Linked DNA regions of Homo sapiens. The protein of the gene in region 3 purifies or fractionates together with the protein of the main gene of each other region. This does not show direct contact. Each region holds a gene or a part of one and is shown on either strand. Other genes may lie near its edges. The genes, in order: GOLGA5, LEMD3 and AOC2.

Region 1 (7,000 bases), on a different chromosome or scaffold from region 3:
TGTACACTGAGGGCAGGCACTGTGTCTTACCTGCCTCTGTATCCCCTATGGGACACATGAAGGAATGAATGAAACAACTAAATGAGCTCAGTGCAATGGAAGGTAATAAAGACTTGCTACTCCTACAGAATTCAGTTGAGAGGAGTCAGCTCTGAACTTCAACACATTCACAATATGCACGTGTATGCAAAATAATCAGTTGATTATAATGCAGAGTGATTAAAACTGCTAGATACACATGAAGTTGGTTAGAAAACACTTTTAGAACAGTTATAGTTGGTATTCTGAAAGAGAGTTTAACCAATGTTCGGTGAAGAAGAGATGGGAAAATATTCTAGACAGAAATAATGTGTCGTTTCAGAGGCTGATGTAGGGCCCAGAACACGATTCATAGTGACAAATTTAATTCCCTCATGGTAGTACCGAAATGATACGAGATTCCATCACTAAGTGCCTCACCACTTTGTCGTGTGCCAGAAATCACATCTCATGGGCACCATCTCATGACAGTGCCCGTGTTACTCATCATCACTAACACCTGGGAAATCAACCCCTCTGGGGCATATTCTGAATGCTTTCTGATGCCATTCAATTTTTTTTTGTACTCCCCACGCTTTCCTTCTTAAAAACTTGTTATTATGCCAGGTGCAGTGGCTCACACCTGTAATCCCAGCACTTTGGGAGGCCGAAGAGGGCGGATTACTCAAGGTCAGGAGTTTGAGACCAGCTTGGCCAACATAGTGAAAACCCATCTCCCAAACACAGAAAAATTCGCTAGGTGCAGTGGCGTGCGCCTGTAGCCCCAGGTACTCGGCAGGCTGAGGCAGGAGAATCGCTTGAACCTGGGAGGTGGAGAATGCAGTGAGCCAAGATCATGCCACTGCACTCCAGCCTGGGTGACAGAGCGAGACTCAGTCTCAGAAAAAAAAAACAACACAAAACCTGTATTTAAAGGAATAACTCTTCCCTCTAGTGGATCACAGAGAAATTTCTTTTTAAAGAAATTTCTTTTCAAGAAAACAGCCCATTTTCATTCAACCCAACTACTTTTAGACATACCCACTCCAAATAGTTAGCAGCCTTTTTAGGCACACGGTACATGCGAAATGGCATCCCAAACTACCGTAACCATTTTACTAGAGGTAAGAAATCTGGGAGAAAGTAAATCAATCTTGAGGCTCTTTTAGAAAATAAAGCAAAACACATGAAAACAATTAAAGCAACTTTACAACGTCAAGATAAAAAATTGTTTTGTATTCAAATTGTTTTTATCATTAGAAGGGCTTTAAAATGGAGGTAACTATTAGACTGCGTTTAATTTTATTTGTAGGAAAAGCCTTTGAGGAATTTATATTCTAGACATAATGAATTGTCAATTTATACTCTACCAAAAGAAATCTTAATTACTAAAACTGAGTTCTCTCTTTCCAAACTGTCTGCTGGCTGGGTGCGTTGGCGCATTCCTGAAATCCCAGCACTCTGAGAGGCCAAGGTGGGAGGATCACTCGAGCCCAGAAGTTTGAGACTATCCTGGGCAACATGGTGAAACCCTGTCTCTACAAAAAATACAAATATTAGCTGGGCATGGTGGTGCACGCCTGTAGTCCCAGCTACTTGGGAGGCAAAGGTGGGAGGATGGCTTGAGCCTGGGAGGTAGAGGCTGCAGTGAGCCAAGACTGCACCACTGAACTCCAGCCTCAGCAAAAGAGCCAGACCCTGTTTCAAAAAAAACAAAAAAAAATTGATTGATTGCTAAAATATCAATAAGATCTGTAGCCAAAACAAACAAACAAACAAAAAAAAAAACTAGTTAAAAATCAAGTGCATCATTGTTTTTTCAAATAAATTTACTTACCATATATATAATTACAAAAACTCGCGCTATGGGGTATCTTCGGAGAAAAATTCCCAGGCGAATACTGTGCAGACACAGGTGTGAGGGGGAGAGGAGAGAGAAGAGTCACAGTCAAAACAAATCTTCCTGTGGTAATATCTAATGATGCTGATAAATTTAACTCATTTAAACTATTTATGTGGCTACCACAGAAGAACAATTTTTATAGCAGACTGTTAAATGATTACTTGAAATAATAATATAAAAATGTCATAGAGGTAAATAAATGCTTTTATCATTATTTGGGGCTTGGCTGTTAAACTTCAGCACAGGTATTTCTCTTAATTCTACAGCCACAACTGTAGGAGGCAAACTTGATCCCTAATTTTTTTTTTTTTTGAGACGGAGTTTCTCTCCTGTCGCCCAGGCTGGAGTGCAATGGCGCGATCTCTGCCCACGGCAACCTCTGCTTCCTGGGTTCAAGCAATTCTCCAGCTTCAGCCTCCCGAGTAGCTGGGATTACAGGTGCGCCACTACCACCACGCCTGGCTAATTTTTTTGTATTTTTAGTAGAGACGGGGTTTCGCCATGTTGGCCAGGCTGATTTCAAACTCCTGACCTCAGGTGATCCGCCTGCCTCAGCCTCCCCAAAGTGCTGGGATTACAGGTGTGAGCCACCGTGCCCGGCCTAAATCTTTTTTTAGTGGAATTACAGAAGTTACGAAAGATTAGGTGGGTGTCAACTATGTGACTGGGGAAAAAAAGAGTCTGGTTGGCATTAACCTGCAAATAGCTAATCTAGAAGCTTTTGTATAGATACATGCTTCTAAAAGGTACAAAGCTATAAACTCATGCATTTGAATAAATAGTGTGGAAGCAATATGATGTCCAGATCTATTATGCCTCTGCAACATTTTTTTCCCTATCAAGACAGATACATGCAGAAGCAATACCCCTTTCTGCTTCTTTCATTGCCACTAGCACAATGTCTTGCACTTAGGTTCTCTAACAACTACGTATGTTGAATAAATGAATAGTTGAACTAGATGTGCTTAATTTGGACATAATGGCTATGGCATCCTAGTTCTGAGGCTTCAGTCATCTTGGTATATCATTCTTATTTTTAATACAATAGCTCAATTCTGACACAAAAAGGTACAAAAAGATTATTATGCCACAATTCATTAAAACTTTTCATTATAAACACTACAAAGAAAAAGGGTACAGTAGGTTATTTAGACAAGAACCTTATCAATGCTATATGTAAACTATTAAAATATTTTTTTGATAAGGCAGATGTCTGCTAATATAAAAAATTTACATATACATAAACATAAATTTTGTTATTTATATAAAATATATAATACAATGAGTGCTGTTCAGCTATATATAGTAGCATCTTTTATTCTAATAGCATGATAAAATTCTGGGATAAAACATTCAAATGGATACTTTTACATGAAGTAGAGGCTTTCTCAATAAAATTTAATGAAGTTTTTAAAAATAGAATTTATTATAGAAAAAAGAGATACAGTCAGGGTTAATCATCTTCAATAAAATGTAGGCATTGGCAGACCTCTTGACATAATTTCTGACATGATATTTCAAATATCATGAAAGAAGTCACTTCATGAAAGTGTAATATAACTGTGAAATAAATAAAAGTGTATATAAGTATAAAATATCTTGAAAGGAGTAAGTCACTTTAAATATAGACTCTGCCTGATGGGAGTCACTGTGATTGAAACCCTGAAAAACGTAAAAACAGCTGATGGTCCATCACTCATCCCTACTGGCATTGCTTACCTAAACTGATCAATTGAACTAGCAGCTTTGCGAACTTTTCCGTACATTCCTGCCAGATTAGTTTCTGTGTCATTAAAAAGAACAGGAACATTTCGCAGACGAGTGCCTGTTTAAATAAGAAAATAAATTAGTGTACTGACATAAAAATTAACTAAGACAATTATAATTGGAAATACACTGTATTACATGTGGAAGGAATTTTCAAGGGCAACTTTCTAAGCATCACCCCAAAGTAGATGAAACTATAAAGAAAGGACAGGTAAATTTGATGACATAAATATTTAAACATCCATATCCACAACAAGAAAAAAGTTTTAAATAAGAAAATGATTTTAGCAAAAATTAAGAAATTTACAAATACTAAGCGTTGACAAGAGTCAATATTAATGGGCCCTTTGTTCCTATGTGAGGAGGAGTGAGGCCGGGTGGTCTTTCTATGAAGCAGAGGACTCCCAAATGTGTACTCCAGCCCAGAGGCTTCATCCCCTGCCAGACTCATCCAACTGCCTATTCGCTTCCATCCAGATATCTAACGGGCACCCCAAAGCCTGCCTAACACTACAATTCAGAGTTCTTGTCCTCGCTGTCAACCTGCCTCAGCTGCCATTTCCCTGTCTCAGGACATCACAATTCCAATCCTTCCATCTGCTCAGGCCAAAACTCTTGACTTCTTTCTCTCAAACTCCGTATCTCATCTGCCAACATATTCTGTCAGCTTACCTTTAAAATAAATTCTCAGTCCACCTTCACAATCCCACTCAGTTCTAGACTACCATCTCTCACATGGATTAATGCAATGGCTACCCACCCACCTCCGGCCTCCTCTTGCCCTGTCTCCCTGCTTCCACTTTTAGCCCTGTGCAGTCTATTCTTGACATGGCAGTCAGAGGCAGCCTATTAAGGTGCAAGTCAGATCAGTCCCCCCTCTCAAGATCCTTCAATGGCTTCCTACCTCATTCAGAGTAAAAGTCCCCATACAGGCCTCAACGGCCTATTCTAAGCTCTCTGGATTCATCTTACACAAGTGTCTTCTTCACTCAGTCTACTCCAGAGGCCTTGGCCTCCTTGCTGTTCCTGAAATATGCCAGGAACATGCCTGCCTCAAGGCCTTTGTGCCTGCTCTTCTTTCTGCCTGGAACACTTTTTTTCTATGCCTCCTCATTGTTCACTATCTTACCTCCTTTGGGACTTTAAAGAAGTGACACTTTTCACCGTATGTTCTCACTCATAGGTGGGAATTGAACAATGAGAACACATGGACACAGGAAGGGGAACATCACACTCTGGGGACTGTTGTGGGGCTGGGGGAGGGGGGAGGAGGGATAGTATTAGGAGATAGACCTAATGCTAAATGACGAGTTAATGGGTGCAGCACACCAGCATGGCACATGTATACATATGTAACTAACCTGCACATTGTGCACATGTACCCTAAAACTTAAAGTATAATAATAATAAAAAAATAAAATAAAAAAAAAAAGGTGAAACCTAAAAGAAACTGAAAACCCTTAAAAAAATCACAGAAGTTATGGTCAGGAAAATTTTATTAATTTAAGCGAGGCACTTTTTATTTATGCCATTAAGGAGTATGATTTACTTATTTATAATTTCATTTTTACTTGTAATTAACAATTACAAATAAAATGATAATTATACATTAAAAAAAAAAAAGAAGTGACACTTTTCAACGAGGTCTTCCTGATCACCCTTTTTAAATTACAGTGCCATCCCCATACCTGGCACCCAGCGTCTCTTAAACAATTTTTTTTATTAAAAGAAATAATTTAAAGCCAAAGAACTGAGAAATTTGCTGAATGACAATTTGTAGACTTTACGAAGTTCCAAGATTAAAAATCTGATCTGTTGATGCTTATACTATCTTACACATTATTTTTTAATTACATATGTTGGGAATCTATAGATTTCTTTAGATATGGTTATGTGAACTATGTATTAGCTCTAATACCCGTAACTATTTACTGGAAGATTATTAAAGCAAATCTTGTTTCAAGTGTCCTGAAAGCTCCTCTCTACTGAATTCCTCGCCTTGTCAGCATCATCTTGTTAAGTGTCTCAGACATTACAATATAATTATCAATCCTCAGACTACTTTCCCCAAGTCTAATACTGGTGAGGAATATTAATTAGTCCATTATCCGGTTCACTAACAATACTAAACAGTACGTGGCCCAGGTCTCATATCAGAAAATTGAGTCCTTCACTGGATGAAGTTTCTTTCAAATAAAAATAGTCCTTCTATAACTTTTCAAAAGCATGTTTGAATGAAATGTTCTTTTGAGATTCCTTTTTTGATTACCTTCACCATTGTCAATTCCAGACATATTAATCGAAGACCCATTACTACTACTTCCAGAGGCGGAGTTCATCTGCTGTTCGAGGCGCTCCAGTTGAAAGACCAGGGAGTTCTTTTCTGTGCTGAGACTCTCCAGCATGGTCTGTTTCTGGATGAGAGTCTCTGTTAGCTGATGGAGTCGATTTTCTAACTCAGACTGACTGCTATTGCTTAAAGTTTTATTGGTAAGCTGAAAGAGAAAGTGTTCACAAAATTCTTACATAAAATGAAAGTCATACAATACAGAAATCACACTACTACATTTTCATAGGTAAATTGTGGCATTCATTGATTTCTCAAAACTCTATACTGACTCAATGTCTACAAAAGTGATTTTCAAAAACTGGGGTCATGAAATCAATTTGGTGGGTCAAAATCAGCATTTTAGAAAATGTAATAGAATGGGACATATTCTGATATTTATGTAACATATAGTATATATAAAAGTATAATTTTGTGAAACTCCTGTTTCAGTTTGGTACATGTAAGTGCATGTCAGTACTGAGACACGATGTAAACTGTTTTTCTCACTGAGGCGTCATGGTCAAAGTATTTCAAAGCATGGGTTTAGAGGACACAATCCACACTTTTCAACAGGGATTCAAAAGCCTCCGTCATTCAACAGTTACGGTGCAGTGCAAAGATCACACTCTGAGGTTTTCATCTCTGCTCTGCAATTTTCAAGCTATTTGACTTCAGGTTAATTGCTATACTTCTCTGAATCTGTTTCCTCATCTGTTAGTGAAGATGACAGCACCCGTTGCACATGGTATTTAGGGACAGTAAATGATAGTTGTCCTAGGAGACTCTGGCTGAAAGTTGATACTTAACGACTTCCTTCATTCCATCTTCCATCTGGTCTTATCTGTCTCCATCTCCCTCTACTCTCCTCCAGCCTCCGCTATGCCGGCCACGTTTCCTCTGTTTGGAAACTCAATCCCCTTCTCTTATCTAGGCTCCACCTGCCTTTCTTTCTTATAAATCCCTTACAGCACTCCCCACAAATT
Region 2 (12,111 bases), on a different chromosome or scaffold from region 3:
TAACATTACTGACAGGACATGTCATAATGCTGAACATGTGTTGCTTAAACTACTATAGCTGTTAAGTCCTATCTTATAATATTAAAATTACAGTTATATATCACTCCAAATTTCTCCAAAGCATTTCTACAGACATTATCACAGCAGTTCCCTACAAAAATCACTGGCTGGAAGTAAAGTTGATTTTACTATACCCTCATTTAACAGACACAAAAAGCAAGGCCCAGAGGTTGTGTTTATCTTGCTTGCCCAAATAAAGCCTGTAGCTAACGATAAGATAAAGTATAAAAAAATTCTACTGCTGCCTGGTAGTTAATACTGTGAACTCTAAAGTTAGATCTTGGGTTCAAATGCTGGCTCCAACACCTAGTAGCTGTGGGACCTTGGACAAATCACTTGTAACCTTATTCCCTCTATCTTTCCGTTTTCTCACAGACATAGTATGAGTAGTTACCCTCATGAAAATTAAAATAAAATGCTCACACACATTGAAAATTCTCAATAAATGTTTGCTCTTCTCACCTAAGGCTTTAAAATCTGAAAGACGGGACATTTAGAGATGAAATTAAAAAAAAAAAACAAAACACTTCTGTCAAAAGGATAAGAATATTTCTAGAACATCTTGAACCATAATCATAAATGTTCAGATTTTATAACATTTTCATTTTTGGCAAATTCATTCTTCATGTCTCTTCCTTTTTTAAAAATTACTCCTAAAAACCTGCAAAAAATAAAACCTACATTTATTAAAATTGTGTGGTTTTTAAAGGTAGAATTCCCAATTGAGAAAATGGTAATACAGAAAAGGTGAAAGGAATGATCAACACACATTACTTCAATTAGCCAACTATTTCTTTTGTGTATATATACACTGTGATAAGCTTTACCAGATGGTATACTCAAATTTACAGAAACTAATTTTTAAAGTATGTTTCCCAAGTCACAATATATAAATCTGATACACTGTTGCATGGTAACAAAATCCCAATTCTGAAGGCTAGCTAGTGCAGAAATATTTAGGAAAAAGAAGAGAATGCCAGCCAAAGCGTGGGGAGAGTGTCACTCCTATAGTTCTAAAAGGTATGATATATACTTATCTTCTGCCATTACCTGGTACATAGTATAGGTGCTCAATAAATAATCTGGGTGAATGCGTGACTGAATGAATAAATGAGTAGGAGAAACTTAATGTTTCTTCAAATGAACTAAATCAAACAAGAAAGCATTTGTGATCCCATGGGAGATACACTTATAAACTAAGGAAGTCCTTAATAAGGCTGACCAAGGTTCCAAGCCATAGCTCAGAGGCTAGAAGAAGTAGATATCCCAAGATTCCCCTCACCTCCTAATTAATTTCAACAATCCTCTTCATATGCTTTGAAAATTTTACCTTGGTGAATTCCTACAGAGCAAAAGCATCCTTTGTAAGTACAGCATGCTTTCAGGAATTAGCCATAGTCAGAAAATTGTGTGTGTGTGTGTGTGTGTTTGTGTACATACTCAGATATATATGAGCTAACTGAGAAACAAAATTAATTTTCTGCTATGTGCTAAAATATCCATTTGCTACTAAAGGGTTTTTTCTATTCATGTCATATTCAGGGCAGAACAGCAATTGGTGCATACTTACTACCCAATTAGTTCAGGAGAGCTGAACTACACTCTTGCATAGTTTTACAACCAAGCCTTGTTTTTAAACTTTAGCTTGCCATTTGATAGTAACATAGCTGTAAAGATGAATTCAGAAGTCATCTTGCAAAAGCATTTTAAGTAAAAAGCTGTGCAAAAGCACAGAGCAATAAATCTAGCACCCAGGAAAAATTCAGTGGTATAATTTTAAACTATACCTTGACATAAAAGAAAATGAAGACATATGAAAAGTAATTCATGATGGCTTCCATATGATAGATGCATTATTCTATTTTTAGAGATTACCTCTGTTACTATAACTTTTATAACCTTTTTGAAGAGCTAATTTCCTAAGAAATATATTTTTTAAATAATGATATTAAACATGCAAAATAAATTATTAAAACCTAACTTATTTTCTTCCTGGTAAACTCTTGTTTAAAAAAATTTTGGCAATATTGTTAATAAAGAATATTATTAACTATATATATAATATATAATATATAAACTGATGCAGTTTAAAGCATAGATTATTAAAACAGTGAAATCCAAAGGTTACTGCTCAACTATACTGTTACTGGTTCACTTTAAAATCTATGTTAGGGCAGGGCACGGTGGCGCACACCTGTAACCCCAGCACTTTGAGAGGCCGAGGCAGGTGGATTACCTGAGGTCAGGAGTTTAAGACCAGCCTGGCCAACATGGTGAAACCTCATCTCTACTAAAAAATACAAAAATTAGCCGGGCGTGGTGCCATGTGCCTGTAATCCCAGATACTTGGGAGGTGGAGGCAGGAAAATCACTTGAACCTAGGAGATGGAGGCTGCAGTGAGCCGATATTGCACCACTGCACTCCAGCCTGGGCGAGAGAACAAGATCCTGTCTCCAAAAAAATAAAAAATAAATAAAATCTATGTTAAAAATAAATCTAAATATGAAAATCAAAATCCAAAGTTATAAGCAAATAACTGTTATAACAATTTCCACAATTAGTATTAAGCTATGTTCCCATATTAAATGGCAGCAATTTTTAATGTATAATCAATACAAGATTAAAATACATCTTTTTTAAAATGTTATTTTAAGTTCTGGGATACATGTGCAGGATGTGCAGGTTTGTTACATAGGTAAACGCGTGCCATGGCAGTTTGCTGCACCTATCAACCCATCACCTAGGTATTAAGCCCAGCATGCATTAGCTATTTTTCCTGATATTCTCCCCACCCCTAGAATATATCTTCATTCGAATTTAGATTATATCATTAGTAATAAAATTTTCACAAACAAGTTAGTAGTACTTATTTATTAACAAATACATTTTGGAGAGTTCCAACAGTTTAAGGTGTCCTTCTCTTTTAAACAACTTACAAACTATATAATTATCTTTGCACTGAGGCTATAAATTTCCATTTATATAACATATTTTTCAGATAGGGAAAGTTAATATTGAATAATCAATGAGCAAGGAGAAGCAAGCTTTAAGAACTTCCCAACTCTTAGGAATCATGAAAATAATTTTTCATGATTATTTTAGTGTCCCTGAAATTATCAAATGCATCATTTCCATTAAAACATATATGAGTATAAAGGGAAAATATGAAGTTTATTCAAAAGGAGCAAAAAAGGGAGATCAAATGTATGAAAAGTTCTTTATATCCTAAAAATGAACAACAGAAAGAACAAGTTGTAATTGGTAATACAAATCAAAAGATCACTTTCCCTACCAGTTTTGAGACTGCAAATATTTTAAAAATTAGAAATAGTTTTAATATTGTATTATTGTTCTATGTATTATATATTATAGTTTGCTTCATAGCAGATGCCCCCTCCCCCTTAATTAATCTAAAACCTTAAGGATAAATAGTTCCATGTGATTCATAATTGTTGAATGAATACAACTTTTCCTAAAGTTGTTAGGTTTCATAGATTATTCCTGCCACTTCTAGGATTTTATGAATCTATACTTGTCACAGTTTTCTGAAAATAAAGACAATAATAGTAGAGAACATATATCAAGTCCTTATTTATACATATTAAAAGGCAATCTAGAAGAACAGTTAAGAGCCACTGTCTGAGTTCAAATACTGCCGCTTCACTTACTAGCTACATGACCCTGGGCGAGTTACTTCTCAGTGTCTCCATTTACTTATAAAATGGGATAAGTACCTACCTCATAAGGATTAAATAATAATTGTTTAGCTCAGTGCCTGGAACACAGTTAATGCTACGTAAGGGTTAGTTATTATTATTACTATGTGCCATGTATGAGTTTTACTTTACACACATTACTTCATTCTCATTTAACCTATTTTTCATATGAGGATATTGAGGTTTACAATGGCTAAGCAACTTGCCTTAGTGAAAAAAAGCTAGTAAGTGGAAGGGCCAATATTGAAGCCCAGGTTCTCTGATAGCTATGCCAGTGTATCCTCAAACTAGTCTCCGTGGATATATCTGTAGAGATTCACAAGTTTTTCCTCATTATTTTTAATTTAAATCATTCTAGGGAAAATTTTCAAATGAAAAACATTTTCATAGAGTAGACTTTAATTTCTGAAATCATCAAACTGGTATATGCAAATCCCTGGCATTCACGGGAATATTCTCATAGATCTAGGATTTTTTTTTTTTTCTTACAAAGCAGTCAACTCGTAAAACTTCAAACATAACATGGAGCTTTCATTCTTCAAGAATGAGAGAATAGGCCGGCTGCTATGGCTGACACCTGTAATCTCAGCACTTTGGGAGGCGAAGGTGACAGGATCGCTTGAGCCCAGGAGTTCAAGACCAGCCTGGACAACAAAGTGAGATCCTGTCTCAACAAAAAATACAAAAAATTTGCCAGATGTGGTGATGCAGATCTATAGTCCCAGCTACTCAGGAGGCTGAGCTGTGAGGATTGCTTGAGTCCTGGGAGGTTGAGGCTGCAGTAAGCCATGATCACACCACTGCAATCCAACCTGGGTGACACAGCAAGACCCTGTCTCATATTGAAAAAAAAAAAAAAAGAATGAGAGCAACAGCTATTTTTCAAAATCCTTATTCCCCATATTCATTTTAGATACCAAGTTCGGGACCTTTTGGCTAGTCTACTTTAAGAAGTAAAAATATTTTTTAAACGACAATGACATTAAAACATGTTACTTCTTTGTAACAACTGGTCTTGATTTTAAAGAAAACAACAACACATTAAAAAAACAAACATTTAAAAGTATTCCCTTAGTAAACAGTACTAGTACTCACATTCAGCACCAGTCTCTCATCTTTACTCCAATTCTGTATCTACAAGAGCCTACAAGAATTTTTCACTTGAACAACTCAAATAATAAGCCCCAAGTAAACTCATTTTCCCTAGACCACTTTTCCCCAAACAAGATCCCTCTTCCACATCTCTAATTCCTCCAATGATATTATCATTCTCTCAGTCATCCAGGCTCATGGCCAGAATAATCTTTGACTCCTATCTGTCTCTTATTCTCTATACTCAAAACCATATGTCTTTCTTCAAATGAATTTCATTCATAGGCCCAACTCCATTCCCACTTATCCACCTCCTTCAGGTGTCATCACCCTACTCCTTCCCTCCAACCCTATCACTGTCTAAACCATCACCTGTTTATCCTTCTTAAAGGACCAATTCGATCATGCTTGTCCTCTGCTTTATAACCTCCATGAATTGCCATTACTCAACCTACAGAATAAAATCCAAATGTTGAATTTAGAACTTTTGATCATGTAAGACTGATCATTTGAGAATTTACAGTGAATTCTCCCCTTTTATAAAAGTGTGTAACCACATAATATCCTGTATGTTTCTTAGCCATTTCCTATTACTGTTATTAGTGGTGTGGAGGCTTCTACAGAAATAAGATTTCTTTTATATATCCTTACCAGATACTAAGTAGATAACCAATTACCGAGTTAGATACTACCAGTTAACAGTGCATATATCCTGAGTACCTGATATGTGATCATTTATTCAACAGATATTTGCTGAATAATGAATCTGTGCTGAAGATACTAATGTGACTTCCATCTACTAAGAGATTTCCATGTGCCAGACAACACTAGTTTAGATGCATTATCTCACTTAATACAAGTCATCCTCAGATAGTATTATCAATCTCATTTTTAGTATGAGGCAATTATATCTCTAGTATAGTCTACTTTAAAAAGTAGAGCCAAAATCAGAACTGAGTAAAAAGTTTGTACTCTTTAACACTGTATTCTACTCCTATAGAAATATTACTCTAAAGAAAGGAGCTGTCATCTATTTGGCATGGTGGACACACAAATATAATACTTTGTCCTAAATACTATGAAGGATGCAATTAATGTCTTATTTGAGCACAAAATGATGGGCCAAACTCTAGGGTAAAAAGATGGAGAGTCAGAGATATCTGGAGATGACATGTTTAAGAATGAATCACAGTTACAAAATAAAGAAACATTCCCAAAAAAGGGGATAACCTGTGCAAAGGTAGAAAAGCACAAATTTCATGACTTACTCAGAAAACAGCAAACAGTTCAGTTTTCTAGAAAGTAAGTGTGATAAGGGAGACTGGTAGAAAGGGCAAGCATAGTCAGATCATGAACAGTTTAGCCAACGAGTTTAGATTTTGGCCAATAACTAAGAGAAAGCCATTGTGTAATTTTAAGCAAGAGGGAATGATCACATTTGTGCTTTAGAAACGCTGCTCTGTACTGACAAATGGACTGGAAGAGCTACAGCCTAGAAGCAGGGACACCATTTTAGGTTACTGAAAGAGTTCAGGCAAGAGACTAACCTAGAACAGTGGCGAGGGACAGAAAAAGATTGATTCAAAAGATATAGAGGAAACAGAACTACAGGACTTGGTATCCAATTAGGTTGGGGGTTTGTAGGAAGGTGAGGGAAAGGAAAGAATCTAGGTAAATCCAAGGTTTCTCTCTTGAGCTCTGTCTGGGTGGATGGAAGCACCATTAACTAAACAGGGAGGAGGAGCAAAAACAAGGTAAATATAAAGAAAATGTCAGATGGTATTGGTACATACTTCTAGTATACCCAAAAGATGTCTAGTAAACAAATAGGTATACCTAGATCTCAGGAGAAATCCAAGGTAAAAATACAAAACTGGAAGATAATGACAAGGAGAGTGAATGAAACTTCCTAGAGAAATGTGTGCAAAAGGAGACAGCCAAAGATCAAGTTGTGGAGACCACCAATATTTAAAACAGGCAGACAGAAGTATGAAAACTAGGAGAGAGTAGTGATACAGAAGCTTAGAAAGGAGAAAGTTTCATGAAGAAGGGAGTTGTCAATGCACTAAATGTACCAAAGAGATGAGGATTTGAAAATTGAGTAACTGGTGACTTGAAGAAGAGAGGTAGCAGAGGAATGGCTGGTAAAGAAAGCTAAACTAGACAGGGTTGAGTGAATGGCAGGGAAGAAAATAGAGGCAGAAAGTTTGAGAAGAGTAACAACTAGAGAAGAAAAGAGCACAGAAGAGCAACATTTTTAGAATGGTAGAGATTTTAGTATTTTTATAGGATGAGAAAGGGACTAGTGGAAAATGAGATTTTAAAATTATACCTCTGTACTTAAAATTAGTATATGGAAAAGTTACCCATGATACAAAAAACAAGTTGCAGAATATGTATGCTATAATATCACTTAAAATTCTGACTCCTTTCAACGGCCCTCAAGGCGTTTAGGTCTTTATGATCTGGCCCATACCTACCTTTAACTTCATGGTATGCCATTTTCCCCTTCATTCATTATGTCCCAGCAACACTGGCCATTCTTTTTGGTCCTTCAACACACAAGCCTGTTTTTGCCTCAGGAATTCTGCACTTGCTGATACTTCTGCCAGAATGCTCTTCTCCTGATCAAAGGCTAGTTCCCTCAAGTCATTCATATCTCAGTTCAAACATCCTTCCTCAGAGAGGTCTGCCTACCTTTATGTAATATTGCATATCTCTTCACCTCAGCCCCCAAAAGTTACCAGCAATACCTTGTGTTAGCAACTACCATTATGTGAAATTCTTATTTACTTGTCCATTCCCCTCCTAGAAATGTAAGCTCTGTAACAGAGATTTCATCTTCCACATATGCAACATATTGTTCACCACATATCCCTGCTGCTTAAAATAATACCGGGCACATAGTAGACACTCTGCTGTTGAATGAAAATCTGTACACACACACATACACACACACACACAGAGATGTATTTACATGAAAAATACTAAGAAAGGTCAGAAAGGATCTAATACTTGAACTTATTTATATGGGGGCAGCATGAGGCTAGGAAGAGAGGCATACAATAACCATTCACTGTTTCCTTCATCTCTATTCAAACTTTCTGCAGAAGTCATGTCTTTTGTAATTGAAAAAAAAATTAATAATGATCATACGAGCCTAGGACAGTCAATCTATTCTGCTTCTCTATTTTCGTTTGGTGGGCTATAATGATCTAATCACCTGTGGAACAAGCGACTACTCTGATTGCAGGTTGATCCTTGAGTTGTTTTGGTATGGCAGTTCAAAGTTAAAATCTTAAATCTTGGAGCTGGAAAGAGCTTAGGGATCATCTAATCCAACCCCCTAGTTTTATAGATGAGGAAGAAGAGACTTATAGCAATTTAATTAATAAAAAAATAGGGCATTGATGAAAAAGTTTCAAAGACTATATGATTAAGAACAATTTAAAAGACTAATCTACTATATGTTATATGTAATTTAAATAATAAAAGCCTCCTAAAAGTTACTCTCACATATAACCTACAATCTTCTGGTGAAAACTATTACTCAAAGTAAACGTATTTCCCTAAGCATACTATTTGACCAATGAACTCTACAGTTAAAGCATCATAATATAACAAAGGATATGGAATACGTGTATGTATGTGTGTGTATATATATATGGAGTGAAAATATTATTCACTCTTGATACCCTAACACTGTTAGGTGTGCAGACTAACTGAAGTTAGCAGGCACTTCTTTCCACAGGGTAGACATACAATACATCAAGTGTATCATACATTTAAGGATTCATTATACTTTGATTCAAATTTCTGTATTAATTTCTATAATGTATATTTAATGGGATAAAAATCAAATGTTAGGTTAAGAAATGCACTATACTATGTCATTTATAGAAATGTCTTAACTATTTATCTCTCTAGATATACTGTAGTTTACCAGGAATACAACAAATTTTGTCCAAATTTCTGAATAATACCACCTTATGTTTAACACACTGTCTCACCTGACCCTCACAAACAAACCCAGAGACAGCAGATATTATTACTTCCATTTAGTATATAAAAATGAGGCTCAGAGATTAAGGAGCTTGACCACAGTCATTCAGACAAGTCCTAGAACCTAGATCCTCTACTTCTTAGCCATTGTTCTTTCCAACGCCCAGATTACTTCACATTTACCATTTACTAAAATGTAAATATAATTTCCTTCCTTCCTTATCAGTGAAGGTGAAGAGTACCAAAATCCTAGCATTCCTATCCTATTCTACCTGAACTTTTAGTACACCACATTAGTCATTCATCTTAACACTGATGAGAAAGATGTGAAAGTCACCTTAACTGAGAATTGTGCTTATCAATAATTCTGTATGAAATCCTACCAAATAGTCAATTACTTTCTTAATCATAATAAAGGTACCCACTTATTTAGAAAGCTCTCTACAAACAATAACCAAAACAGTGTTAAAATGGTCTTTCTAGTTGGAAATAAAATCTGAAACCAAATCTTAGCCCTACTACTAACTGTTCAACACTCAGTGCATTTCTTAACTTAGTATCATCCTCATCCAAAAATGAGGATACCACCACCTGCTTCTGTGAGTTGCTGGGAAGATTAGATGGTACAATAGGTGTAAAGCAATTAGCTCTTAGAAAATGGCCAGATCTGCTAACATGGTGAAACCCTGTCTCTACTAAAAATACAAAAAAAATTTAGCCAGGTGTGGCGGCACGCGCATGTAGTCCCAGCTACTTGGGAGGCTGAGGCAGGAGAATCACTTGAACCCAGGAGGCGGAGGTTGCAGTGACCAGAGATTGTGCCACTGCACTCCAGCCTAGCGACAGAGCTAGACTCTGTCTAAAAAAAAAAAAAAAGAAAAGAAAAAGGCCAGATCTTATAGTTGTTAGAGACACAGATGCAGATAGCTACTGCTGATAGGTAATGTCATTTAATTTATGTGAACTTTTACTTGTTTAACTTCTAGTGTGCCCTTATTTTTTTTCTCCCAAATATTTGGGGCAGGACACAATACACTCATGCTCCCAGGGAATAAACTAAAGTGAGAGCTGAATTTCATTCTTGTTTCAACCCCTGTAATTAAGCAACAGAGTAAAAATCTATTATTTGACTGTCTCGGAATTGGCTATATCTAAATCTAAGCTTACATTATTTTGACTCCTACTCTTTATCTGAGTTGGCTAACTGCATCTTTCACTCTATTTTGAAATAAAACTAATAAGCCAATTTTATAAATACAAATAAAAATACAGTGAATTCATCTTGGGTGAAAAGAGTAGGAAGCCTTCAGGGAGAATGCAGAGAGGGACCTAACACTGAGAAATTATGTATTCAGAAGTCCATTTTGTCCTAATTTACTTTCTCTTTTAATCTTCACAAACATTCTAGTCAATAGAGGCCTCATCTTATAGATTAGGAAAGTTCAGAAGCTTTAACTCTGACTCTCTCCCCTTTGCTCAAGGTGCTTAACCACTCTAACCTACAAGAAGGCTCTTGCTCAACTCAAGGCCTTAATCTCTGCTCAGAATGGTCTACTGTTTCTCCACAAGGCTGTCTCCTTCTGCTTCAGGTCTCACCTCAAATAGTACCTCCTCCGTTCAATCTAAAGTAGTGTACACCTACGTCAGTGTAGTCTGGTAAATTTTTTTAAAAAAGGAAAAAAAATAAAGTTGTGTACGCCAATTACTCATCTTTATTTCCTTCAGAGAACACAAAATGGTCTGTATTCATCTTCTTTTTGTGTTTAAGGGCAGAGATACTTTGATTATGACAATGAACACACCTGCCTACAGTCATTTAGCAAGTAAATAGTAGGACCTGGAAACCAATCCAAGGAAATCTGACTGCAAGCTCCTGCACTGCCCTACCACTACTTTTTGTACAGATGATAGGGAAAGTGCTTTGGGCTGGGAAATAAATTAAGAGGTGTGCCTTGCTGCTTTTTTATATTCATTCACTATAAAGAAATTATACATACAGTTAATACCACAAAATATTTAATCCGAATTTATGCATACAGTTAATATTATAAAATAATTCGAATTTCAAGAGCTATTACATTGCCTATTAGAATCACAACTCAATTTGGAAAAACACTACATTTATAATGTGCCTTATCCTAATACTTCAAATTTGTTAAGTAACTGGCATCTGCGCAAATAGTCTTTCAGGGCTAAAAGAGAATTGTCACATATACAAATGAGTTTTACTAACAAGCTTATAATATTCTTTTAAAAATTGTTTTGAATTTCACAATACATCATGCAGAAAACTTTTAAAACCAGCCATATGACATCATTTCGATAATGGTGTTCTTTAAGAAAGATGACACATGCACGCACTGTTGCGTTTTTGCTGTTAAACCATATTCTTGCAGGTAAGTCACTTCATGTAAAACGCTAAGCGCGGCTAAAGCGGACCACTAACAACATTCTCTTTGTTACCTTACCCACAGGATTTAATACTTACTGCTGAGTTCTCCATCCTCAGATACTCCTGTCCCTCTCATTCCTAGGTAAGTCAGTCCCAGTATTAGGAAAAATAAGCAGGCAGCAGTTAAGAGAAACATCGACAAGTAGTGGGCACTGAAACTCCCTGTTGGGGACACCTCCTCCCGTTTAAATTGCTGGAGAAGTTCCTCTTCGGGTTCGGAAAGCTTCGGTTTGTTGTATGTGTTTTTCAGGTAGGTATGATTGGAGCCCGTATGATTGGCGTGATTGATCCTGAGTGAACTAGAGGCGGCCACCGCCGCACTGGGAGGGAGACTGTTAGAATAAATCCTGGGGGAGTCCACACTGAAGGCCCCACCGCCAATATGATTATTGGTTTTCAGAAGGGAGCCTGTTGACGAATCCAAGGTTGAGTCCATGTCAGTAAGTGGCGGGGGCAGGAGAGGGGTCAGTTTCTTAGCGTTAACACGGTATCTAGGAACGGGGCTGGAGTCCACTTGATCACACCCTCCTCCCTGCTCCGCGGCCGCCGCCTCTTCGAGGTTTCGGCTCCTGTCTAGACTCCCGGCAGCCGCCGCCCTGTCATTCATCGCGAGTCCTCCCCCTCCCTGAACTGAAGTCTCCAGCCTGCCGCCGGCCGATTTAGCAGTCAGCGGGGGGAGAGGCTTACTATGGGTTCGTCTGGGCCGATGCCGGGAAAGGGAGTCGTCCTTTAATACCTGTCTGCTGGAGGCCACGTCGTCGTCGTCCTCTTCCTCTGAGTCCGAATAG
Region 3 (8,739 bases):
CAGCGCCCGAGATGTTGTAGTAGAGGCCAAACCAGGTGGCCCGGTCCCCTGATTGCAGACCACGGGGAGCCGTGGTCATTGTCACCAGGTTCCGTCCCCGGTGCTTGTAGAAGCAACAGTGGTGGAGAAGCCCAGAAGCCTGGGGCAGCTCTCTGTTGAAGATCATCTGGTCTATGTCCAGGTACTCTTGGAACAGCACGGGGCGTCGGTGATAGGGCAGGGGGCCTCCATGACGCTCCACAGTCACGTCCCGCATGTAGGAGGGGTGAGGCAGTGGCCCCACCACCAGCTCACTCACGTTGGGCTGGGGTTGCCTGCCAAAGAAGACGATGGCCAGTGCCTCCCGGGCAGGTGGGGGGCTCCCCCTGTCCAAGTGAGCCAGGGCTGCAGCCTTGGGAGGCAGCTGCAACTCCACTGAGAAGACACAGTTGTCCGAGGGCCGGGCCTGGGCTGCATCCACCAGCCCTGGCCCCAGCCGCTGGGTCAGAAAGCGCATCACAGCCGTCAGCTCCTCTCGGCTCAGGTCTGCAAACAGCTGGCTCTGGCCAGGGTGTGTCCAAGGCTGGGCACTGGGAGATACAGAGGGGCAATGGGGAAGCTGGCTGGGTTCACCCCCATCTCCACCCCTGCCCACCAGCAGGACACAAACCAAGGCAAAGATGGTGATGACGGCCAGAATGAGGAGCACGAGGATTGTCTTCTGGTTCATTTTCCCACGAAGAGGGACAGCTGATTCAACCAAAGGAGAGCAATGTATTCTCACGCCAGCAAGACGGGGGCTCTGTTGGCTCCTGGACGGGGTGGGGGGCTCCCGGACTCTGGCTGAGGTTCCCGGTAGTCAGATGCCTGGGACTAAGGGTGGGAAGGACACAGGAAGGCTAGGGCAAGGGGGCGGGGTGGCCGGGGTTGGAGGCGGGTCTGAACAGCTGTGATTTCCACAGACCTTACATGGTTTTGTCTTCCAGCCTCCAAATCACTCTACTTTCTGGGTCAGGGTTGGAGTTGGGGAGAGTTGGGGCTAGGGGGAAGGGGAAGGAAAATTTCAAGATAATGCAGCACTGGGAAGGAGCAGGATCTGTGCAGAGCAGCCTCTCCTGACCTCAGCCCAGCTTCTTCCCCAGTCCCCCACTTAGTCAGGGCCAGATATTTTCCTGTAACTTCAAACTATCGTTTTCCTTCCAAAGACCCCCACCCCCTGCCCCTTTAGCTTTCCAAATGACATTCCTTGGCCAGGTCTATCCCCCTTGCCCTCTGGCCCCCAGCGCTAATTTCCCTGGCCAGACTCCTTAGTATTCTCCAGAGGACTCTAGATACTTAACAGGTCAAACAATAAATTCAAGTAAAATTCCTCTAATACTTTTTATTATAAATTACATACAACATCTGTTTTACAAAATTCTATCTACTCTTCCTTTTGAATGCACATGCATAAAGAGATGTCTGATGTAATGTGACCACCTATTTCTGAGTAGTAGGATTTGTGATATTTTTCTTTGAATATTTAAAAATCATTTTTATAATTTAACACTTTAGAGATGAACAGGAAGTAAGAATTAACCAAAGGGACTGATGGGGGTTTCGTGTGAGAGGAACATTGAGGGGGTGGGAATCTGGGGAGCAGGTGTGATAAAAACACGGAGAATAGAAAGTAGAAACAGGGAAAAGTACATGTGCCTAACCACGCCGCCCGCCACACCCTCAGGACTAGAAGCCGTGGTAAGAGAAAGGGGGTAAGTCCGGGACACAGGCTGCCAGGTCGGGGAGGCAGGCCACAGGATTGATGCTGCAGAGCCCAGCATCCTGGCCCTTCTCAAAGTAGACACTGCCAGGGGAGAAGATGGAGGGGTCCTCATCAAAGAAGTTATAGGGTCGGAGCAAGAAGCCAACTCTGTTCCCCAGAGTCACTGTGTTTGGGATGTCCTCGGCATGGGGAATGTGCAGGAAGCTGGCTGTGACCCAAGCCACCAGATCCTGCAAGAAGAAGGAGGAGCTGGAGGACTATGGAAGCGTGACCCAAAGAACCACCCTTCAGTCACAATCCCAGCCTCCAGTCTCAGCCTGGCTTCCACTCTCCCCAGCCTCATGCCCATACAACACGTGGAGCAATCCATGTAAGCAGCTGTGCGGGGAGAGGGGGGAGCCAGTGTCCCAGAGCTAATCTCACCCCAGGAGGGATGACCTGTGTTGGTCATCAGAAAACTCCATGGCCTCTGAATCTGCGAACTGGAAATCAGCCATTCCCTCTAACCTTTGGCCAGAGGCTGGGCAGCCAAGATGCCATGCCCACAGGTGTCCCTTTCCTATGTCCCTAGGGCAACCAACCTCTCCTAAGAGGGTTTCATTGTTGATGAAGTCAGCAAAGGTAACTGTGGGTGTCCAGATGTCATTCTGGTGATAGATGCTACTGCTCTGTGACTCCTCCTCCTTTCTCTGGGTCACCACAAGCTGGTATCTGGCCAGGAATCATAAGAAGGTGGTTTTGGGAAATGTCAAGTGCCTTTACTGGCCCAGGAGTCCCTTAGATCCGATTCTGTGTGAGACCATTTCCCACCGTGTATCTAACTTGGGTTTGAGGGGAGGTACAGGGATGAATGGTAGCCGTGGGAAGGGAGTTTGTCTCCAAGGACTGGGGCAGGGGAGGGGCTGTCCTTTCCTTCCACCCAGGCCAGGGCCCTCCTCACCTCCCCCAGCTGAGGGCCCTCTCCATGTCACTCTCCAGGGGTATGTGTATGCCAAGGGGGCTGTGGATCTGGATTCGGTACCCGCGCTGGTGACCCCACGCATTAGTCTGGTTGCTAGCCAGGTAGAGGTAGCGGGGTAGGGGGCTTCCCAAGGAAAAAGCTGTCAGGTCCTCCTTTCCCAGGACCTGCCGAGTCAGCTGTGGGCGCTGTAGCCAGTGCTCCGGGTTCCAGGGGGCAGCCACAGGTTTAAACACCACGTCTTCAGCTACCACCCAGTTTTTCAGCCCTGCCAGGGGGAGGGAAAGGAGATGAGTTCCACACCAGGTAAGGTCTCTGGGCCAGGTCCCTGTCTTCCCCATGATGTCCACTGCACTGGTGTGACAAAAGGCAGAGAGAGCATCAGAGCACACTGTGCTGGGAGCCAGGAGGTCTGGGCAAGAGCAAGCTCCTATCTTCTTCCAACTTGCCCTATCCGATAGGGTAACCACTAGCCACACGTGGCTATGAAAATTAAAACTTAGGGCCAGCTGAGGTGGCTCACACCTGCAATCCCAGCACTTTGGGAGGCTGAGGCGGGTGGATCATGTGAGCCCAGGAGTTTGAGACCAGCCTGTGCAACGTGGTGAAACCCTGACTCTACAAACAATAAAAAAATCAGCCAGGCATGGTGGTACATGCCTGTGGTCCCAGTTACTTGGGAAGCTGGGGTAGGAGGATTGCTTGAGCCCAGTAGGTTGTGGCTGCAATGAGCTGAGGTCACACCACTGCACTCTAGCCTGGGCAACAGAGCAAGACTCTGTCTAAAATATATATATATATATATATGTATATATATATATATATATATTCAGTTCCTCTGTCACACTAGCCACACTTGAAGTGCCCAGTTGCCACACATGGCTAGTGACTATTGTTTAGAGCCACAGCTCAAATACGGAATATTTCTATCACTACAGAAAGTTCTATTAGCACTGGACTACCAAACAGTCCCTGGACCAATTTGCTTCTCTGATTCACTTTCTGAATCCCTACACTGGGCATAATTAAAGCTGTTCTATGGCTGTGCCCAATAAACAGAAAAGCACTTGCAGCTGACTAGTGACATTCTTTTAACTATGAAAGGGATAATGATATTTGTCTTGGAGAAGCTAGCTGAAAAACTGACTCCTGAGCCGGGTGTGGCAGCTTGCAACTCAGGAGGCTGGTGGCAGGGTGATGCAGATCCCTTGAACCCAGGTGCTGGACACCAGCTGGGGTAACGGAATGAAACACTGCCTCTTAAAAAAAAAAAAAAAAAAAAAAAAAAGGCCGGGCATGGTAGCTCACAGCACTTTGGGAAGCCGAGGCGAGTGGATCACTTGAGACCGGGAGTTCAAGATGAGCCTGGCCAACATGGTGAAACCCCATCTCTACTTAAATAAATAAATAATTTAAAAAAATTAGCCAGGTGTGGTGGTGTGCTACTCTGGAGGCCGAGACACAAGAATCGCTTGAACCTGGGAGGTGGAGGTTGCGGTGAACTGAGATTGCACCACCGTGCTCCAGCCTGGGCAACAGAGTGAGACTCTGTCTTCAAAAAAAAAAAAAAAGCTGGGCGTGGTAGTGTATGCCTGTCATCCCAGCTACTAAGGAGGCTGAGGCAGGAGGATTGCTTGAGCCCAGGAGGTCAGGGCTGCAGTAACCTGTGATTGCACCGCTGCACTCCAGCCTGGGTGACAGTGAGACACTGCCTCAAAAAAAGAAAACCCAATCCCTTCCCATGGTCCCCTGCATACTCCTCCCAGCTCTGAGACTTCACTTTTGATCTCAGCAAGGTGGGAAGTACTGTCAGTGTTTTTCAGAAGCAAGCACATTCATACCTTTGTCTGGGAGTTCCTTGGAATTCTACAGCATCCATAACCTGCACTGCCTAACTCAGCACTTGGTCATACACTTTCTGCAGGTCTGGACTGTAAGTTCAACGAGACCTATATGAAGGTACCTGGCACGGGAGGCACTGCACTGAAGCTGGTGCCTCTGCAGCCATCCTGTGAGCTGGTGCCTGACACAGCCTCTCTGGCCCACAGCAGCAGCCCATGCTGCACACGCTAGGGGTCCAATAAATGTTACTTCCCAAAACAAGCCTCTTTAATGCCAAAGATGCTGAAGAAAAACTTCCAATCAGAAGACAAGTCAAAATCCAAGTATGTCAAAGAGTAATCTAGTTAATATGATCATTTCAATCATGCTATTAGTCCTTCCTACCCTCCACACCACTGCGAACACAAGTGCAAGTGCATGCACAGAGACACACGCAGGCACGCACGTGCCATGTCTTTAGACTTGAGGATAAGAAAACATTTCACAAGAAATACTAGTTTATGTTGCATTATACTTGGGCAGTCATTTCCTGTCCCATCTCCCGCCACCCTCCTTAGTTTCCCTTAAAATGGAGAGGGTCTGGTGAGTTTCTAATTTTCTTTGTGGATCAGTGTGTGAGTCTGTAAGTTCCTTTCTGTCCTTGACAAAGTCTGTCAGGAACAGCAAGTCCTCTGTGTGCTTTGAGCCCTTTGTGCTTGAGAAATCTCTTTCCATACTTGCAGCAAGCTGTGTGCCTGCCATGAGTCAACTGTGATGACAGGAATGGGATGGCCCTCCCGATGAGGAGTGGCCCTATCCTGGGGAGCAACCCCAGCTTTGCTACCCTCTCCTTCCTAAGCCCCAGGTCGACCCCCACCCTGAAGACTCTGGACAGACTTCTTCCGACCTCGGCTCAGGACCCTGCCCTCCCCACCCCTACTGACCCTCAGAATTAGGAAGAAGCAAAGTGCTCCAACTCCAGCCCCATTGGGCCAGTTCACCCACCCAGTGTCACTTGAGGCTAAGGCAATCATGCCCAGCCATTACATTTAAACTAGTTTCACAATCATAGCAAGTCAGAGGGGCTGGGCGGGGGAACTCTTTTCACCTTTTACCAGATACCCAGTAGCCCAGTACCAGACTCACTGCACTGAATATGCTCAAACAGTCCCTGCCCTGTTGCCACTAGAGCTGTGGTGTTGGAACACCCTGCTCTTGCCACTTGTTATTTCAGCTTGACCTGGGAGATTCCCTTCCCTTCCCTCCACCCCACCTGACCCCGCCCCCAAGTCTCCATCCTCATCCCCTCAGCACTCACCTGCCACATCCAGGTCCAGCTTGAAGTGGAAGGCATGTGTGTGCACCGTTCCCAGCACTCTTTCCCCCACACGGTTCCCAAAGAGGAGGCCCTCCTCTCCCCCTTTCAGGAAAGCTGTGTTGATATAACCCGTGGCATGGACCCGCCCTTCAAGTGCCCCATTTGGGTACAACACAAAGTCCCAAATGTAGTCATAGTTGCCCACAGATGACACAGACCTGACCACAAGGGCTGAGCTGGCCAAACCACCATAGAAATGATTTTGAAGGTAATTGTGGTGCCTTCGAAGGGGCAGTCCCTGGGCTTCCTCAAATACACACACAGCCCCTGGAAGCAGCTGGACTGCCCCTTTGCCCACTAATATATGGATGTCCACCATCGTGGCTTGATAGGGGCAGTCCACTCCCCGCACCAAGCCTCGGCTGTTACGGCCGAGTCCAAAGCTGCTATCCAAATAGCGAGTCAGCATCGTCTTGGGTGAATCGGCACCATAGATAGATACACACTCCTGGACACTGACTTCATAGGCTATTCGCTCACCCTGGAACCGAACATCAAAAATCCTCAGGCCGCTGAACACCCCATGGCCAAAGGTAAATGACCAGAGGGAGGATACCACCAGGTTTCCTTGCACACTGTACTGGGAACCCTGGGGCGAGAACTGAAGAGGGGGAAGAGGACCTGGAGAGTTCCGAGACCTCAGGGATGAAGCTCCATTTGGTGGAGGTAGAGGGACTCTAACCACTTCCAACCGGCCAGACTTAAACTCCCGTTCCAACTGGCCCAAGTCTGCATAGTAGTGCCCAAGGTAGAAGACCTGCTGGACAGTCCAGTGGGCAGGGTCCAGGGCCCTGTGGTCCAGTAGTAGCTCCAGCCCCACGGGGTGAAGGAAAAGACCAACCCCTGAGATGTTATGGTAGAGGGCCATCCAGGTAGCTCGGTCCCCTGAGCGCAAGCCCCGAGGGGTGGCATGCACAGCTGCCAGGGTAGAGCCATTGTAGTTGAAGGTGGACGACAGGAAGATGGGTGCCTTGGGTAGCTCCACCTCTTTCAGATGCCTCCACATCTGTGTAAACTCAGCTCTCAGCACCGGGCGACGGTGATAGGGCAGGGGCCCGCCGTGACGCTCCACAGTCACATCCCGCATGTACGAGGGGTGAGGCAGCGGCCCCACCACCAGCTCACTCACATTGGGTTGGGGTTGTCCACCAAAGAGGACGATGGCCAGTGCCTCCCGGGCAGGTGGGGGGCTCCCCCTGTCCAGGTGGGCCAGGGCTGCAGCCTTGGGGGGCAGCTGCAGCTCCACTGAGAAGATGCAGTTGTCCGAGGGCTGAGCCTGGGCTGCGTCCACCAGCCCTGGCCCCAGCCGCTGGGTCAGAAAGCGCATCACAGCTGTCAACTCCTCTCGGCTCAGGTCTGCAAACAGCTGGCTCTGGCCAGGGTGTGGCCAGGGCTGGGCCCTATGGGATACAGAGGGGCAGTGGGGAGGCTGGCTGGAACCACCTGGGCTGGTCAGCAAAACATAGGCCAGGGCAAAGATGGTAATGAGGGACAGTGCCAGGAACGCCAGGACTATCTTGAGATGCATGGTGGATGCTGAGAGCTGAAATCAGAATTCTAACAGCTGCTCCTTCCAGTTACTGACATCAAGTCGGGGTTTATATTCGCTAGGATGGATAGGAAGGGAGAAAACTCCACCCCATGGGTTGGGCAGGAAATTTCTGACCTTGATTTATGTAATTCTGTTCCAATTTTCTGTCCTGTGGTTTGGCCCAGGGCACTGCTTCCACATGCATAGCCTCTTCCTTGCCCCTGAACTCCCACTGGTAGCAGTCAGTACCAACTACTGATTTCCATCATTTAGACCAGATGAAAGGGAATCTGGGTTAACGATGCTAACCTCCAGTTTCCACCTGGAATGGGTCTCAGGAAGAGTACAAACCTCAGATGCCCAATTAAGTTCTGCAGCCTGCATGCAAGCACTAAGCTGTCCATTTTCCTACCTCCTGGCAGGAACTGCATCCCAACAGCTCCAGGATTCACTGCCATGTTCAGCAGTAAGCACTGAATTCTACTTGTTGCCTAATGCCAAGCCCTTGATTTGTAGTCAGGCCATTTCCAACCAGTGGAGTGGCTGAGGGCCTGGGCTTAGTAATCAGGTTTGTCCACCAATCCCAGTTCCCTCAGCTGTGTAACCTTAGCGGAAATACTTATCCTGAGTCTCAGTGTCCTCATCTGTAACAAATAGATACAACTATCCTATAGATTCCTGAAGATTAAATGTGATCATGCACATTAGGTACTTAACAGCCTGGCACAGGGGAGGCACTCACAAACCGCTAGCTTTTGGTAGTCATCTCTGAAACAGAACAGAGCAGCTGCTCCTCCATTGTTCAAGACCTTAAACTCTTTTTACAGAGACAACGAGGGGATCATTGGAAACCAGAAGGCTACTTGCAAGGTGGAAGATGAGGAAACTTTATTTCAGAGGGAGATAGATTCCTAGGCAGCCCTCCAAGTAATTTGAAAACCAAAACTAGGAGTCTCCTCAAGAAACTGAAGACATTATTCAGGAAGAATTAGTATAAGGTAAAGAAAATGACTGGGTAGGACGCGCCTTGAACCAGTTCATTCCTTACACATGGAACGATAGCAGCCTCTACTGGCAGTTCATGGGTATCACTCGGGAAGGAAGGAACTAGGATCTTCTGAAAGTAGGGAGAGAAGGCAGCTTAGGTCTGGGAAGAGCTAACTTTCCCATAATTCAGACTGAACACAAATGAAGCACCCAACCTTGCTCAGTAGGCAGAAGCCTCAGTCTTTCCACTATACTGGGGAAAAGATTCAGCTCAACTGGCATAAGGACACACAACAGGGTGGCTAGGTGTCCATGGAGGTGGG

What was found.
Region 1: the proteins of AOC2 (region 3) and GOLGA5 purify together in Homo sapiens (affinity purification with mass spectrometry; 2 studies listed by BioGRID and IntAct, with this or other methods). This does not show direct contact.
Region 2: the proteins of AOC2 (region 3) and LEMD3 purify together in Homo sapiens (affinity purification with mass spectrometry; 2 studies listed by BioGRID and IntAct, with this or other methods). This does not show direct contact.

Annotation. Positions count from the first base shown.
Region 1 is NC_000014.9:92,832,305-92,839,304, reverse strand, and holds part of GOLGA5 (golgin subfamily A member 5), read right to left. Parts: intron 6,184-7,000; coding exon 5,958-6,183; intron 3,747-5,957; coding exon 3,641-3,746; intron 1,920-3,640; coding exon 1,856-1,919; intron 1-1,855. UniProt on the Homo sapiens protein: Involved in maintaining Golgi structure. Stimulates the formation of Golgi stacks and ribbons. Involved in intra-Golgi retrograde transport.
Region 2 is NC_000012.12:65,170,367-65,182,477, reverse strand, and holds part of LEMD3 (inner nuclear membrane protein Man1), read right to left. Parts: coding exon 11,360-12,111; intron 1-11,359.
Region 3 is NC_000017.11:42,843,314-42,852,052, reverse strand, and holds AOC2 (amine oxidase [copper-containing] 2), read right to left. Parts: upstream 7,474-8,739; 5' UTR 7,427-7,473; coding exon 5,839-7,426; intron 2,968-5,838; coding exon 2,682-2,967; intron 2,453-2,681; coding exon 2,323-2,452; intron 1,972-2,322; coding exon 1,705-1,971; 3' UTR 1,346-1,704; downstream 1-1,345. Other genes in the region: AOC3 (amine oxidase [copper-containing] 3), read right to left, coding at 1-709. UniProt on the Homo sapiens protein: Catalyzes the oxidative deamination of primary amines to the corresponding aldehydes with the concomitant production of hydrogen peroxide and ammonia. Has a preference for 2-phenylethylamine, tryptamine and tyramine.